2 separate regions of the Homo sapiens genome follow, and region 1 is linked to region 2. A link means that fine-mapping ties the variant in region 2 to the expression of a gene that starts in the linked region. Tissue or cell type: testis. Region 2 holds a variant in brackets; the other region holds the start of a gene. All regions are shown on one strand. Distances are from middle to middle.

Region 1 (8,090 bases), 74 kb before region 2:
GAGATCAATTAGTGGAAACGCTGGGGAAAACTTAATAGATGAAGTGGGACATGGGATAAGCTCAAAAGACAAATAGGCCAGCCAGAAACTGAGGTGAAAGAGAATCAAAGTGAACAGTAATTAAATGCTGTAGTTCAGAAATAGGAATAATCACTTTTAGCTGATAATGTAGCACAGCTAAATAAGACATGTATATGGAATGAAGTCTCTATTCAGCCATGAAGCAGCTTGTGACTTCTGCAAGGTATTACTCTAAGACATTCAATTTCTTCACTTGAAAAACTTGGGGAGATTATCTTCAAAGTCCTCCCTAGGCCTAAGGTTTCTTTATGGCATTTACTATTAAGATTCTTTTGCATTATGTAACTTTGCCAGTAATAAATTATAATTAGTGAGTGACTATATAGTTTATAGGAGTGAATCTAGGAGCTCTGAAATTACTGTCATGAAAACATTAATTTATAGGGAACTTAAGGACTTTATTTACATTAAATCTCATATGCTTTAAATCTCATATCTCCTACTGCTTTAAAACAATCTGTCCACTTGCTATATGTAAGTGTACTCTGATCATTCCCTCTAATAAAGTAAAAAATTAAAACCTGAAACTAACCCCTTCTGAAATCCTGACCTTGTTTTTTCCCTTTGCATATAGACAGAGGATATCATTGAAGAAGGAAAATAGGTCTATTTCCTCTATTAATGTATAACTGTGCCATTCCTAAATGGGAGAATTGATTCAAATTAATTTGTAACACATGATAGCAACACTTCCTTGAGAAACTGTTCTAGCTACATCTCTTGTTCAGCAAAGTGTACTAATTTTCAGAGAACAAAAGCAAAATAAAGTTTCACTTAAGACTATGCATCTCAAAGTTTAATGTACACACAAATCAGGGCTTTTGTTAAAATGCAGATTTTTCTGTAGTTCTGGGATGGGATCTGAGATTCTGCTTTGCTTTTCTTTTCTTTTTTGACAGAGTCTAGCTCTGTTGCCCAGGGTGGAGTGCAGTGGCATGATCTTGGCTCACGGCAACCTCCACCTCTGCCTCCCAGGTTCAAGTGATTCTCCTGGCTCAGCCTCCTGAGCAGCTGGGACTACAGGCATGCACCAACACGCCAGGCTAATTTTTGTATTTTTAGAAGAGACAGGGTTTTACCATGTTGGCCAGGCTGGTCTTGAACTGCTGGCCTCAAGTAATCCGCTTGCCTTGGCCTCCCAAAGTGCTGGGATTACACGCATGAGCCACCGTGCCCAGTTAGATTCTGCATTTCTAACAAGCTTTCAACTGATGCTGGTGCTGCTGGTCTGTACACATACACTTTGAGTAGTAAAGGCTTATACTTTTTTGATGTATGATTAGCTCACTCAAGTCAGAAGTCCAGTGGCAGTGGACACAGGGACTAGAGTTTAGGAAAGAGAGACTTGGGCTGGGAATATTTGGGAGTCATCAGTACATAGGAGATTTTGATGCCAGAATATGAGGATAACGGCCCAGGAATAGTGTTTGGAGAAAAAGGAAGAGAGGCCCAAGGCCAGCCCATGGGTAGCGCCATTATTTAAGGCACACTTGTAGGATGAAATTTAAGAAGGTCAAGAAGTAGCAGATGAACCTGAGATGCCAATGATGCTTTTCAATGAGAAGCCTGTAGTTCTCAAACTTATATTTTAAAATATAAGTAATAACTACATTTATTGAGCCTTTTATTCCTGGCACTGTGCTAAGGGCTTCAAATTTTCTCTAAAACACAGGGTGTAAGAAATGTGATGTCACATTAAAATTTTTCTCTAACCACATCCCAATGCTCTGAGCTGGTGGAAAATGTAATTTGGGTCATCAGTAGGATTTTCCACTCCACACCCAAGATTATATGAAGGTTCTAGGGGTCTTAGTCTCAGTCCAGTACATTTGGAAAAGGCCCTCTAGTCTTCACTCAATGCTGATTACTGCTAATATTCTCATTTTCCCACCTCATTCATCCCTTGTAGGTGAGCTGCTTTCTTGATTCCCTGCCAAGCTTGGGCATAAGGGTCTTGGTCATGGTTGGAATCTCAGATACCTAGCACGCAATCTCCCTAATATGCTACGCATTCATTCCCACCTAAGGTTCCACCACTTTCCTCACCTATTAGGTTCCTGGTAGTCACATAACCGGCAACTCTCCTTTTCTGTCGTTCAGCTAGTTGCCACCTACCTCAACCAAACTCAAAAGCCTCTAACCCCTCTCCACTGTGTGAAGACGGAAGTACCTCAATGGACACAAGTGTTTTTGGTGAAAGGGACTTTTTATTCTGCCCCGGAGCTAGGGAAATCCCAGATCTGTGCCAGAGTTATCAAGGGGGTAGTATATAATCATTCTCTGCATTCTTTTACAGCACTGAGAACAAGTAAAATTCTTACCTTAGTATCTTTACAAATCATTTTACCACACATGTATTGTCGTATGAAATCCCTACAACCACTCCATGCAGGAGTAATTCCCAGTTTACATCCTGAAGCTCTGATAAATTTAGAAACCTGCTTTAAGTCACAGAGCTAATAAGTAATGTGTAGGTGCTATAAACTATGTGCCTTGGGCTCTGCAGCTATGAGGGCGTGGTATTATCACAGTTCCTATCGAAATACCTTGCTGGAGGTCATGTGTGAGTGGCAGTGACCAGACAAATAGAGAAACCTCATATACAGAGGGGAAAAGTCTCCATGTATAGTGCCTGGGATATCTCCATGTTAGTGCTGCTCTTTCTTGGATCTTCACCGCAACGCCACTATCTTGATTTTACTATAAGAAACTGAGGTTTCGAGTGCACTGGTGATTTGCCTACTGCCACAAAACCAGGCTAATGGGCTGGGCGCGGTGGCTCAAGCCTGTAATCCCAGCTCTCTGGGCAAAGGCTGAAGCGGACGGATCACCTGAAGTCAGGAGTTCGAGACCAGCCTGGGCAACATTGGCGAAATCTCGTCTCTAATAAAAATTTAAAAATTAGCTGGGCGTTTGACGCGCGCCTGTAATCCCAGCTACCCGGGAGGCTGAGGCTTGAGAATCGCTTGAACCGAGTGGCGGAGGCTGCAATGAGCCGAGATCGCGCCACTGCACTCCAGCCTGAGCGACAGAGCGAGACTCCTTTTCTACAACAACAACAAAAAACCAGGACAAATCTTGCTGGCTTCCAGTATGGTATTCGTTTCATCTCACCAAACTGGCGTGGCCTGCGCTAGCTTCAGAGTCTCGACAAACTCCAATACAAGTAAGGTACACATTATTTTAGCAGTCTTCCTTGGGGAGGACGTGGGGCAAGCACAAGCGTAGCGTTAGGCCTGAGACTCCACCCCAGCCGTCTCTGAGCCCAGTTCAGCACGCACGCGTCAGGCGGCTTTTTTCCGCCCGGCTCCTTTCCTCCACTCCCTTCCCGCCACTCCCCGCCCTTTTCCCGCCCGGATGTTATTCTAGTTTTGCCGGATGTTGTTGTATGTCCGAGAGACACGTGAGGTTCTGCTACGTCATTACCAGGCACGCGCAGGAAACATGGCGGCGGCGGGTGTTGTGAGCGGGAAGGTAGGTAACGGCCTCCAGGAAGACCTCGGCTTTTCTCTGGGACGGGGATGCTTTTGCTCCCTGGCAGCTGGTTGGGGGAGGGACACGAGGGACTTTCTGTGTCCGGACAACCCGTGGCGTCTGTAGGAGAAGACTGGGTGGTACCAGCTGGTTTCCCGAGAATGCCAGTTCAGCCGCGGAGTTATAGAGCCGGCTACTGCTCCAAGGCCAGCTAGGCCTCGGCGCTCTTCTGCCCCAGAGCAGAGAGGCTTTTATTCGTATTACCTTTACTAAGGGACAGGTGGCTCTCTAGTTCCTTTTTTCCCCCGATTCACTGTTTCTTGACTCTAGTTCTTTATGTCTACTCTTCTGACTCCAGCGTCTTTTCTCTCTTTGAAGCGTTAACCCGACTTGCCTCTGTCTTCTTTGCTACAGTTTGGTGAAGATGTTTATGCTTCCTTCGGGAGGAGCTGAATAGATGCTAGGCAGCTAGCTGTGCGCTTAGAAGAAACGAGTGTATTGGGTCTGTTTTTACCAAGCTGCTGAGTTGGTTGGTGGTTGTGAGCAGCAGGACGTGTTTCCTGAGAGAAATGGAGATTTACACCATCCTGTGCTTGTCTAGGAAGGCGTCCAAATATTTATTTCCTAGGCATTTCAGTAGGAGTATTGGTCATGCTGGTTTACGGAGGTGGTCAGTGACACGCCTAATTTCGTTGGAAACTAGAATTACGTGCGGAGATTTCGTCGAATAGTGCCTATTCGCGTTCCGAGGGCACATCTTATGCATAGTTAGGGCTATCAGCTTTATGATATGCCACCGATAGTATTTCCCAGTGCAGGAGTATTTCATAAACAGCTGGAATCAACTGAAGTGACTCATCGAACACTAATGGTTGTTTACTCATTGCAGATAGCGTCCTCTGTTCCTTGAGTTTCACTCATGTCTCCCTGTTGCTTTCCCTACCCCATTTTGAATTATTTGACAGCGTTTGTGGTTTGGTGTTTGGAGTATTAGACTAGGCGGCTGAATGACAAATATGGGCTTGGTTTTGCTGTTAATCTGAAGTATGACCTTGGAAAATTGGGCAATTGTGACTTTTGTCTTTTCGCGTTCTTTATCTGTAGAATGGAGGAGATGCCAATCATTATTTCTTGTATTGGAGTTGTTAGGGTTATATAAATTTTTTTTTAAAAAAACATAAAATTACACACTTGTACCTACTGGCTCTTTTAAAGGATAGGTGGGCATCCTTTTTTGGATTATTCGTGCTCCTTGGTTGTCTTGTCAGTTTTTTTCTTTTTATATTCAGGGTGGATGCTGATATACTGCTTGACTTACTGCGTATTTGAAGATTATCCTGTTTGATTTTCCATCTAAACTGATCCAGGCTGGGACTTTTCAAGAGGGGATCCCTTCCGTTTAAACATCTCCCTCTTTCAGGTTTGGATTGATTTTGAAAGAATCCTTGAGGCAATGAAGCAGAGTTGTGAAATGAAAAACATTTTTCACTCTTTGCAGCCACTACCTTTCATAGTCTGACTTCTTAAAGTGAGACTTATATTTAGTAATTCTGCTTCATAACCTCATTTATTCTCATTCACTGCAAATTCACATCTATTGCCATCACTCCACTGAAACTAGTTTTCCATGCCAAAAGCTGCTCCTCTCCCAAGTAATACTATCATGACCAACAAAACCCACTTGTTCTTCTCTCAGTAAGTTCAGATCTGGTTTAATGGCATCATCTTTCACCTGGTTGCATGTTAAACATACTTGGAGGCATTCATTCCTATAACACTCTCTAATCAATAACCATGTCCTACCAGTTTTACCTTAAGAGGTTTCTTAAATTTACTGCATCTTCTTTACTATCAGCGCATAGTTCAGGCTTTTAGTCTGCTTCTATTCTTGATTTCTTGGCTGATTTTACTCCTTTTCTACAGTCTCTGCCCTTAATCTTCTCTACACCACCACTGGAGTTATTTTTCTAATGCGCAAACCTGATAATCTCTTGATTTAAAAAGCAAATGAAAACTCTTCACTTTTTTATCGTCAGCATAATAATAATAATAATGAAAGCTGGTTAATGTAACATAAAAAGACATGATACCTTTATGCTTCCCTACTTCCTAATCTTTTTTCTTTAGGAAAGGGGATGGGGAGAAAATGTGTGTGTGTGTTTATTTATTCATCTCCCCTCTCCCTTCAAGTTTTAGCTAAGAGTTCTAGTTTAGAAATCCAGGGGAGTGAATGTTAACCAAGGCTCACAAAAATCACTCGTGATACTTTTTAATAAAAGTACAGATGGTGGGCTACCAGCTCTGTTGAATTAGAGTCTCTCAGTGTCTCCACCTAGGATGTAACTTTTCTTAAAACTCTACTTGCTTTGAACTTGGAGTTTCGGAAAGTGATGGAGGAAGTTAATCTCTGTCTTGTAGGGAAGCAGCAAAAGGTAATGGTTAAGAGCTTGGTCTCTGAAACCAAACTAGTTTCAGAAATTATCTCCACACATTTACAAGCGACTTCAGTAAAATTACTTAACCTCTCTGTGCTTCAGTATCCTCATCTGTGATATGATAACAGTACCTACTTTATTCTTGGTATGAGGATTAATGAGTAAATATATTAGAAACTGTAGACTGAACTAATCATCATGAGGTCAGATCCTGAAATGTTTCATCTGCCCCTAACATAGATTCTGGCACATAATAGGTATTCAGTGAAGAGGAAGAAGCAAGAAGGTATGAGAAAATGAGGAACCAGGTGCCGTGGCTCAGGCCTGTAATCCCAGCACTTTGGGAGGCTGAGGTGGGAGGATCACTTGAGCTCAGGAGTTCAAGACCAGCTTGGGCAACATAACTAGACCCTGTCTCTATGAAAAATAAAAAAATTAGCTAGTTGTGGTGACATGTGCCTGTTGTCCCAGCTACTTGGGAGGCTGAGGTGGGAAGATTGCCTGAGCCTGGGACTTGGAGGCTGCAGTGAGCTATGATGGTGCTACTGCACTCCAGCTTGGGTGACAGACCAAGACCCTGTCTCAAAAAAAAAAAAAAAAAAAGAAAAGAAAAAGAAAATGAGGAGGGATTAGAGTGGGAGAAATGGGTCCATTAATAGCTCTTTTGTTTCAGAGTTGTAAAATCCTATTGTAGTACACTTCATTCACTCTAGGTTTTCCTGTTAGTGTATTAGAATTTCTTTCTATTGAAAATTACTGGCCGGGCACGGTGGCTCATGCTTGTAATCATCACTTTGGGAGGCTGAGGTGGGTGGATTACTTGAGGTCGGGAGTTTGAGACCAGCCTGGCCAGCATGGTGAAACTCTGTCTTTACTAAAAATACAAAAGCCGGGCATGGTGGTACACGCCTGTAGTCCCAGGTACTCAGGAGGCTAAGGCAGGAGAATCGCTTGAAACCAGTGCAGTGAGCTGAGATTGTGCCACTTGTTCAGACTGGGCGAAGGGCATACTGTGTTTCAAAAAATGAAAAAGAAAATTACTTGAAACAATAGGGAAATCAGCTGTTTTTTTTTCTTAATTAGAATTTGTGATGTCATTTTTAGTAACAATTTATTTTGTAGCTTAAAATTGGCCCTAACCAATTCTTTTTAAATATGCTCATAGTCCTATAAAATTTTTGTGCTTTAGAAAGATGAATATTCTTAGTATCTAGATTTTCCTGGAGACTTGTTTTCCTAGACTGGATCTTTTAACATGGTAGTTAACTAGGGTATAATAGGAGTATGTCTTATTTTTAAATTTTTCTGGCATTCTTTAGTTCAACAAACGTTTTAGTACCTCCTATGTGCTGAGTTCTTTGGATACAAGGGTGGTTAAACACAGACTTGTATTATTATTATTATTATTGTTAATTTATTTTTGGGACAGTCTTGCTCTGTCACCCAGGCTGGAGTGCAGTGGTGTGATCATGGTTCATTGCAGCGCTGACTGTGTATCTCCTCCAACTCTTAAATTATTCACGTCTCCTATCTGACTTCGCTTGGCACACCAATATCCTTGAGAAGCAATAATAGTTCTGCCAGTTGCTCTTCCTTGAGAGTTGTACCATTCTCTATATCTCAAAACATTCTTCACTTCAGACTATCTGTGATGTATTGCCCTTACAACCACCTGTATTGTGCATTTTTTTTAGTTCCATAGTCATTACTCATTAACACATCCCAAATAAAACTCAGCTTTCTTCTTTCTGTTCTCCCTCTCAGTAAATAACCTCATCTACACAGTTTTGTCCTTGACTGTTCTCCCCTTCACCTCTCACATCTAATCAGTCATGAAGTCTTGTCATTTTGATCTTCTAAATATCTTTCTAAGCCATCTGCCTTTCCTCATCCCCACTACCATTGCCTTAGTTCAAGCAACCATGAGTCTCTCCCTCTCTGGATTACTGCAGCTGTTCGTTCTTGGCCCTGCAGCCACTTTATTGGCTTAGAAAAGGCAAATTTCTAGTTGCGTTTGTCTGTCTTCAGGATAAATTTCAAACTCCTAAATTCTTTAGCATGGCTTATGCAGCCCTTTATGATCTGATCTGGTCTCTGTTT
Region 2 (8,109 bases):
TTTCTGAGGGCTCTGTTCTGTTCCATTGATCTATATCTCTGTTTTGGTACCAGTACCATGCTGTTTTGGTTACTGTAGCCTTGTAGTATAGTTTGAAATCAGGTAGTGTGATGCCTCCAGCTTTGTTCTTTTGGCTTAGGATTGACTTGGCAATGCAGGCTCTTTTTTGGTTCCATATGAACTTTAAAGTAGTTTTTTCCAATTCTGTGAAGAAAGTCATTGGTAGCTTGATGGGGATGGCATTGAATCTATAAATTAACTTGGGCAGTATGACCATTTTCACGATATTGATTCTTCCTACCCATGAGCATGGAATGTTCTTCCATTTGTTTATATCCTCTTTTATTTCATTGAGCAGTGGTTTGTAGTTCTCCTTGAAGAGGTCCTTCACATCCCTTGTAAGTTGGATTCCTAAGTATTTTATTCTCTTTGAAGCAATTGTGAATGGGAGTTCACTCATGATTTGGCTCTCTGTTTGTCTGTTATTGGTGTATAAGAATGCTTACCATTCAGGACATAGGCATGGGCAAGGACTTCATGTCTAAAACACCAAAAGCAATGGCAACAAAAGCCAAAACTGACAAATGGGATCTAATTAAACTAAAGAGCTTCTGCACAGCAAAGGAAACTACCATCAGAGTGAACAGGTAACCTACAAAATGGGAGAAGGTTTTCACAACCTACTCATCTGACAAAGGGCTGATATCCAGAATCTACAATGAATTTGAACAAATTTACAAGAAAAAACAAACAACCCCATCAAAAAGTGGGCGAAGGACATGAACAGACACTTCTCAAAAGAAGACATTTATGCAGCCAAAAAACACACGAAAAAATGCTCACCATCACTGGCCATCAGAGAAATGCAAATCAAAACCACAGTGAGATACCATCTCACACCAGTTAGAATGGCAATCACTAAAAAGTCAGGAAACAACAGATGCTGGAGAGGATGTGGAGAAATAGGAACACTTTTACACTGTTGGTGGGACTGTAAACTAGTTCAACCATTGTGGAAGTCAGTGTGGCGATTCCTCAGGCATCTAGAACTAGAAATACCATTTGACCCAGCCATCCCATTACTGGGTATATACCCAAAGGACTATAAATCATGCTGCCATAAAGACACATGCACACGTATGTTTATTGTGGCACTATTCACAATAGCAAAGACTTGGAACCAATCCAAATGTCCAATAATGATAGACTGGATTAAGAAAATGTGGCACATATACACCATGGAATACTATGCAGCCATAAAAAATGATGAGTTCATGTCCTTTGTAGGGACATGGATGAAACTGGAAATCATCATTCTCAGTAAACTATCGCAAGGACAAAAAACCAAACACCGCATGTTCTCACTTATAGGTGGGAATTGAACAATGAGAACACATGGACACAGGAAGGGGAACATCACACTCTGGGGACTGTTGTGGGGTGGGGGGAGGGGGGAGGGATAGCATTAGGAGATATACCTAATGCTAAATGATGAATTAATGGGTGCAGCACACCAGCATGGCACATGTATACATATGTAACTAACCTGCACATTGTGCACATGTACCCTAAAACTTAAAGTATAATTTAAAAAAACTGTAAAAATAAAAAAAATAAAATAGATTAAAGGCAACCAGAACATGAAGATTAATTTGACAACTTGCTTCAGCTAAGACTTAACAGAAGAAATATGTAGTGATTCCATAAGAAAGCTGAAGACTTAAAGGATTAAATTGGCTTCTTAGGAATTTTTATTCATTATAACTTAATAATAAAGCACTTTTTAAGAGAGGAAGGGTGCTTTGTAAATCTTTTGAATAGCACACTTTGAAATATTTCTGATGTAGATCATACACAGTCAGGCTCAGTAACGTAGTACTCTTGCACTTTGTTGAATTCAGATTAGATTTCCTTCATGCTTTAATTGGTTTAGCCTTTATTTTTTGTCATTGATTTCACTGTGTCAGGTAGGAAAGTTCTGATGATAACAATTTAGTCTTCCATCTATCTTATTCTTTTTTTAAAAGTGTGCATTATTTTAGAAACCATCTGTGTAAATTTAGATACCTTGTTGTATGTCACTTTTGTCTAGCTTTTTTCTCTAAATGTCTTGGTAACTTCATTGTCTGGTACTGTAATAATTGGATGTCCTCCATGAGAACCCACGTGCCCTTTTATGCTAAATTGAGTAGAGCTATATTTTCCCACAGGGTGCAGTGTAGACAGAGTGAGGTTAACAGGACTGTGGAAAGATGTGGTGGTAAGATGATTGGACAGAGGCTCACAGCAAATTGAGCTGAAACTTTATTTGTAAGGAGATTCTGAGGTGATCTGAGTGCTTCTGTCTGTTGTGTGTTTGATCTGAGTTTTCTCAAGAGATTTAGTTTACCTGCTTTCTGAGATCATTTTTTAAAGTTTTCCTCCAAAACAGAGTAATGTGTAATTATGTATCATTTATATGATAGCAGAACTATCTCCTCCCTCTTTCATTAAATATTTACTTTTACATGGCTTCAGTGCAGATAGATTTTGGTGAATAAAAATGTAAACTTTGGATTCGCAAATGAAAGACTATTTTCCAGACTTCCCAAGCTACCAATAAAGAAATTTCTACATGATTTTAATAAATACACAAAAGTTACCGAAGTTGAATGATAACGTTTAAGTAAAAAGGCTTAGTATAAGTTCGTGTCCCTTCATTGGTTCAAGAACCTCTTAAGTCTGAAAATTTTTCAAGTCTTGAAAATTGTAAAACAAGGATAATTGAGGGTTTTATAAGAGGAAGTAAAAAAGAAGTTTGACATGTTCAGGTGAAAAAGTAAAACTAACACTTTTTCTTATTTTTAAGTGAGGGATCTGACTCCTTAATTTTCTAGTTTTTCTTTTAATCAAGGGCTCTATTACTGTCACCATTGAGAAATTGTAATAATATCAAGAGACATGTAGGTAAGTGGTCACTTTAGGTACAAAATATTGATTGGGTTAAGCCCAGTTGCTGGCATTGGTTGGGTGTAGAGAGTAACAAAAAAAGAAAGAAGGACGTAGATATGACTATTTAAAAGAGGCTCTTAATTTTGTAACTCCTGTTATGTGAATCTAAAGGTCTGATTGTTAAAGCAGTTGAACCCAAAGTTCTTGTTTTATGTGGCTTACTCATGGTAGTTTGGCATTGCTAACCACTCTGGGCTTGCAACTTTCTTGTTAATTTTTGCAACATTATTCTCGCTTGATTTTTTTCTTTACTTCTCTGACTGGTCTTTCTTAAACCTGTCTTTGAGTGTATACTCTTACATTTGATGTTCCTCTGGATTATCTCTTCACCCCTCTTCTTTCTCATGATGCTCTTGCACATTATTTTTAAAAATATTACCCACTCTTGATAGTGTATCTGCACTGAGACACGTACTGGAAGCTATATATTGTTTGACATCTCAATCTAAAACAACTCATCTTTCTTACTTATGACTAGAGTTCCTCCTCTTCATTTATATTCTTTTCTTGGTGAACATCAGTGTCTACCAATTTCTAAATGCAAAGGAGAAAGATACAATTTTAAGCGAAATGGTGGTGATATGCACAACTTGCAGAAGGTTACATAAAACTTGGGTTTTCAGAGATGATTTTTTCTTTTCTTTTTAGGATATGTTCA[A/G]GGAATGAGTGATTTACTTTCCCCTCTTTTATATGTGATGGAAAATGAAGTGGATGCCTTTTGGTGCTTTGCCTCTTACATGGACCAAATGGTAAGAACAGAGATTCCTTCCATTAAACTGATTTTTAAAATTTTAGTTGTATAATTTTATAGTATAAGGTTGATTTTTATATTTAGCCAACTATGATGGAACTTAAAAAAATTACCTCATGCCTTTTGTTACTTTTTCTTTTTAGTAGCCTTTCAAGGGCTTAGAAATACTGGTGGTATTTTTAATACAGGAAATAGTTTGTGCCTGTAGTATAGGAATAATCAGGATTTAATATCAGTAAATGCTTATTTTCTACTAAAGAGCCATGTGTCATTACAGAATATTGATAAAATAGATGAATTCAATTTTGTGGAATAGTTGAACTTTAATATCATCTGTTTCAGAGATAAAGCTTAGTCATGCCAAGTAATATCCTTACCTTTTGTGAAGATTTTGAATTTTGTCATTATAGTAACTGATTTTTCTCCAGATGTGTTTGAACTATTTGTAACTCTGACACTTTCTTAGGAATTCATTGTTATTTTCCCAGAAGTATGTGATTATTAGAATTGAACTGTCTATATATACATGTTAGTACAAAGAACATTTTATCTATTATCATTGTTAAATCTTTGAGACAGAGTTCTAGGATAATAGTGCAGAGAATATTGACAGGAAAATAAAAGAAAAGTCTCTTCAAGCAATCTCAGAAAAATAAAAGCAGAAGGGGTGAGACTAGATAAAGGCAGATGAAGTCCAAAGACCTGACTACATAGAGGTTGCTGTGTTTTTTCAAAATAACACTAACATACTGGATGCTGGGCCTTTATGTTGGATATTGAAATGGCTGGCTTGCTTGCAAGGGATAAACATTTTGAATCTAACCATCTGAAATATTTTCCTGTAATACAGGGTTTAACTCAGAGTTTCTGGGATACAAATGTGAAATTTGGAAGTGGTACCCTTCTCCTTTTTTCTTTACTTCTATTCTTTCCCTTTTGCTTGCCTATTTTTCTTTCTCCTTCAAATTTTCCCTGCTTGTGGCTATTTCCCCAAATCTCTTGTCCATAGATTCAACTTGTTTTTGCTTCTTTCAGTTTTTTTCTAAATGTATACTTGGTAAGATTTGATAGATTTAAAATGTTCTTTTACATTAAATTCATGAATATTCAAATTGGTTTTTTGCCATAAATTAATTTTTTTTGACTATTTGGAAGGATTATCAATGCAGTAATTTGGTAATGTCATAGTTTGTCTTCCTTCCTTTTTTGATTGATTTGTCTACCTTCTTAGTTCCATTTACTCCCAAGTGCTCTAGAAACCTGAGGCATTTGTTATAAAGGTCTGTACAGCTGATACTAATTACATAAAAACTGTTGTCTGCCTTCCTTGTGTTTTTGTTGTTTATCCTCTTTTCACCAGAGCTAGTATGTTCCTTGATAAAAGGGATTATATCTTGTTTCACTGGTAGCATACCAGAATTTTCCTAATGCCTGACATGAGGTTGTTCAACGGGTTTTTGTAGAATAAACATGTGAATCTTTCCCCAGTGATTAGTTTAAATTGCTATAGTAGATATTCTAAAAAAAAAAAAAAAAACACAACTAAGATGAACATACTGCATTTAGTATCATGCAATAAGTTTTCAATAAAACTAATCCAATATTGGCATGTAAATATATATTGACATATAATGCCACATACACACATGCATACAGACGTGTGTATATAGGTCTCATATGTAAAGACTACCTTCTGAACATGTGTAATAAACACTTTACAGTCCGTCATTTTTTGTGTATGAAGGTTCAGTTTCTTTGTTCTGTCATTTTCACAGTAAATGCTCTCTGTGTTTGCCTTTTCCATTAAGGATGTTCTGGGGATTTTTCTAGTCTTTATTCTAAAAAAGATATCTTATGATTATGTTGTCTGCTAACATCTTTTCTTTCATAATATTTGAATGAGAGGGAAATATATGGCAATCAAAATAACCTGTATGATTGTTTTTCACTGCATTGCCCTTGTTTGATGTCCCTAAATCTGTGCTGCTGTTTCTTGATTCTGTGTTTCTGTTTTATAGCTTTACTTCATGTAAGTTTGTACTACCTTTGTGGTGGCTGAACCTAACGTCTGTAAATTTACTTTTGTTGATGTTTACTTGCATCTAATGTAGGTCTAGGCATAGACTTTGTCTATTATCATGGAAATACAAAGTACAAGTGATCTGATGAACTTTGTTATACCCATCATCCATTTTGCCATATAGTTTTAATTCCTTTCTCCTCTCCATCTCCCCCTCCCCTGCCCCATACAGACACATTTATTTACAGACACATTTGAAGCCCTTTGTATATCCATTGTTGATCCCACTCTCCCTTCTCCAGGAGTAACCACTTTTTCGAATATGGTGTCTGTCATTATGGACATGTTTCTTTTTTACAGCAGAGTGGGTAGCAAATGTCTATGCCATGTTGGTATTCCCAGATCAGCTCTAGTCTTTGACTGTGTCACAGCAAAAATGATCCTGTTAATCAGAGTTGATTCTGCCCCTTCTCTATAGATCTCTCTGGTAAATGTGGAGGAACTATATCCTAAAGCCTTGAGTTAGTCTATTAATAAACTGGTTTTTAAAATTCATTAAAGAGAAACAGCTTATTGAGAATTAATAGACTTAAATTTTTTTTAAGAATGAATTGTTTCTAATATGATAGTTCTAATAAAGCACTATTGTACTGTAAAAGTGAAAAAGTAAGTGTGAAGGAGGAAATGTTTTTCTAAGGCTTTCACTAGGGTTAGGGCGGTAGGTTACCACAGAGGGATCGGGACATATGAGTTAAAGGGATCCAAATCATTTAAGAAGCCTTTCAGAGCATCAGTTTTGGTGCCTTCTGGCCCCTTGACTCAGGTGTTGGTAGGGAGTCTACTCAACTATGAAGTTTCTTTAAAGCATATGAACCCCAGCAGTTCCCAAACTTTGTGACCTCAGGGCCCCTTCACACTCTCCAATATTATTGAAGACCTGAAAGAGTTTTTGTTTATGTGGGTTATATCTGTTGATGTTTATGTGAAAAATTAATACTGAGAAACTTGTATTCATTTATTTATTAATTCATTAAATAACAACACATTCTACCTTAACATAGATCACTTTTTTTTAATGAAAAGTAACCTTTCCTAATGAAAAATTTACCGACACAAGAGATTGTTTTAAATTTTTCATTTTTAAAAATGTCTGGTTTAATAGAAGACAGCTGAATTTTCATATTTGCTTCTGTGTTCAGTCTTTTGGAGTATCACACATCATACAGCCTTTGCACTTGTGAAAGAATTTAAGTATGAAATCCAGATAATGTTTTAGTATTGTCCTGAAAATGGTTTTGGCTTTACAGATTCTCCAATGTAAAGTAATTCTTTAAAATGAAATACATACTAAAACTAAAATTAATTTTATTATGTATAATTTGAAGGAATATTTAACAATGGAAAGAATTTGATAAATATTTATTTCCCAAATGTGTGTTTCTTTCACCAAGTCTTTTATGCTGTGTAAGAAATAAATAGTCAGTCTGCAGTTGCTATGTCTGCATTCTTCTTTATCTAAGTCAAATGAATAGAGGAAAAAATAATCCTTAGTTTTGAGAGCAAGGATTCTTTCTCTTTACCCTCCCTTTTAGTGTTACGTTAGATTTTTGGTTAGTTACGCATTTTTTAAGATTACCAGTGTGGTATAAGTTCAGCATTTGTCCTTAGACATCATGTTTTAGTTATCAGTCATTATGTACTATAAAATATTTATTAAATATTACTTGTAACAATTATTTCCTTTTAAAGCATCAGAATTTTGAAGAACAAATGCAAGGCATGAAGACCCAGCTAATTCAGCTGAGTACCTTACTTCGATTGTTAGACAGTGGATTTTGCAGTTACTTAGGTAAGTTTAGTGAATCAGAACTATACCCAGCAAATTGTAGAGTAATGCATAGAAAAAAATGTAAAGAACTCTTTAAAGAAGCCAGGTGCAGTGGCTCATGCCTATAATCCCAGCACTTTGGAAGCCAAGGAGGGAGGATTACTTGCACCCAGGAGTTTGAGACTAGCCTGGCTAGCACAGTGAGACCCCATCTCTACAAGGAAAAAAAAATGCTGGCTGTGGTGATGCATGCCTGTAGTCCCAGCCACTCAAGAGGCTGAGGTGGGAGGATTACTTGAGCCGAGGAGGTTGAGGCTACAGTGAACTGGGATCACTCCACTGCACTCCGACCTGGGTGACATAGCAAGACACTGTCTCAATAAAAAAGAACTTAAAGACATATATACTCTATTGCACTTTCTTCGGTTCCATAAAAATGTGGAACCAAACTCTCTTTGTATAATTCTGCCTTAAACTTGATTCGTAAAATGTATTATTTGTTAGTTTTTAAAAAGAAGT

The links. PIP is the estimated chance that this variant, and not a neighbour inherited with it, causes the effect.
Region 1: TBC1D15 starts here. The variant in region 2 is fine-mapped to the expression of TBC1D15 in testis (GTEx, PIP 0.97).

Annotation. Positions count from the first base shown.
Region 1 is chr12:71,836,257-71,844,346 of GRCh38, forward strand. TBC1D15 (TBC1 domain family member 15) reads left to right here and starts at 3,503. Exons shown (of 17, transcript NM_001146213.3): 1 at 3,503-3,555. The coding sequence starts at 3,526.
Region 2 is chr12:71,910,187-71,918,295 of GRCh38, forward strand. TBC1D15 (TBC1 domain family member 15) reads left to right here. Exons shown (of 17, transcript NM_001146213.3): 12 at 3,640-3,740; 13 at 7,512-7,611. Among named protein-coding and RNA genes, the nearest start is that of TPH2, 25 kb to the right of the region's middle. The variant A/G (reference allele first, on the strand shown) is at 3,650.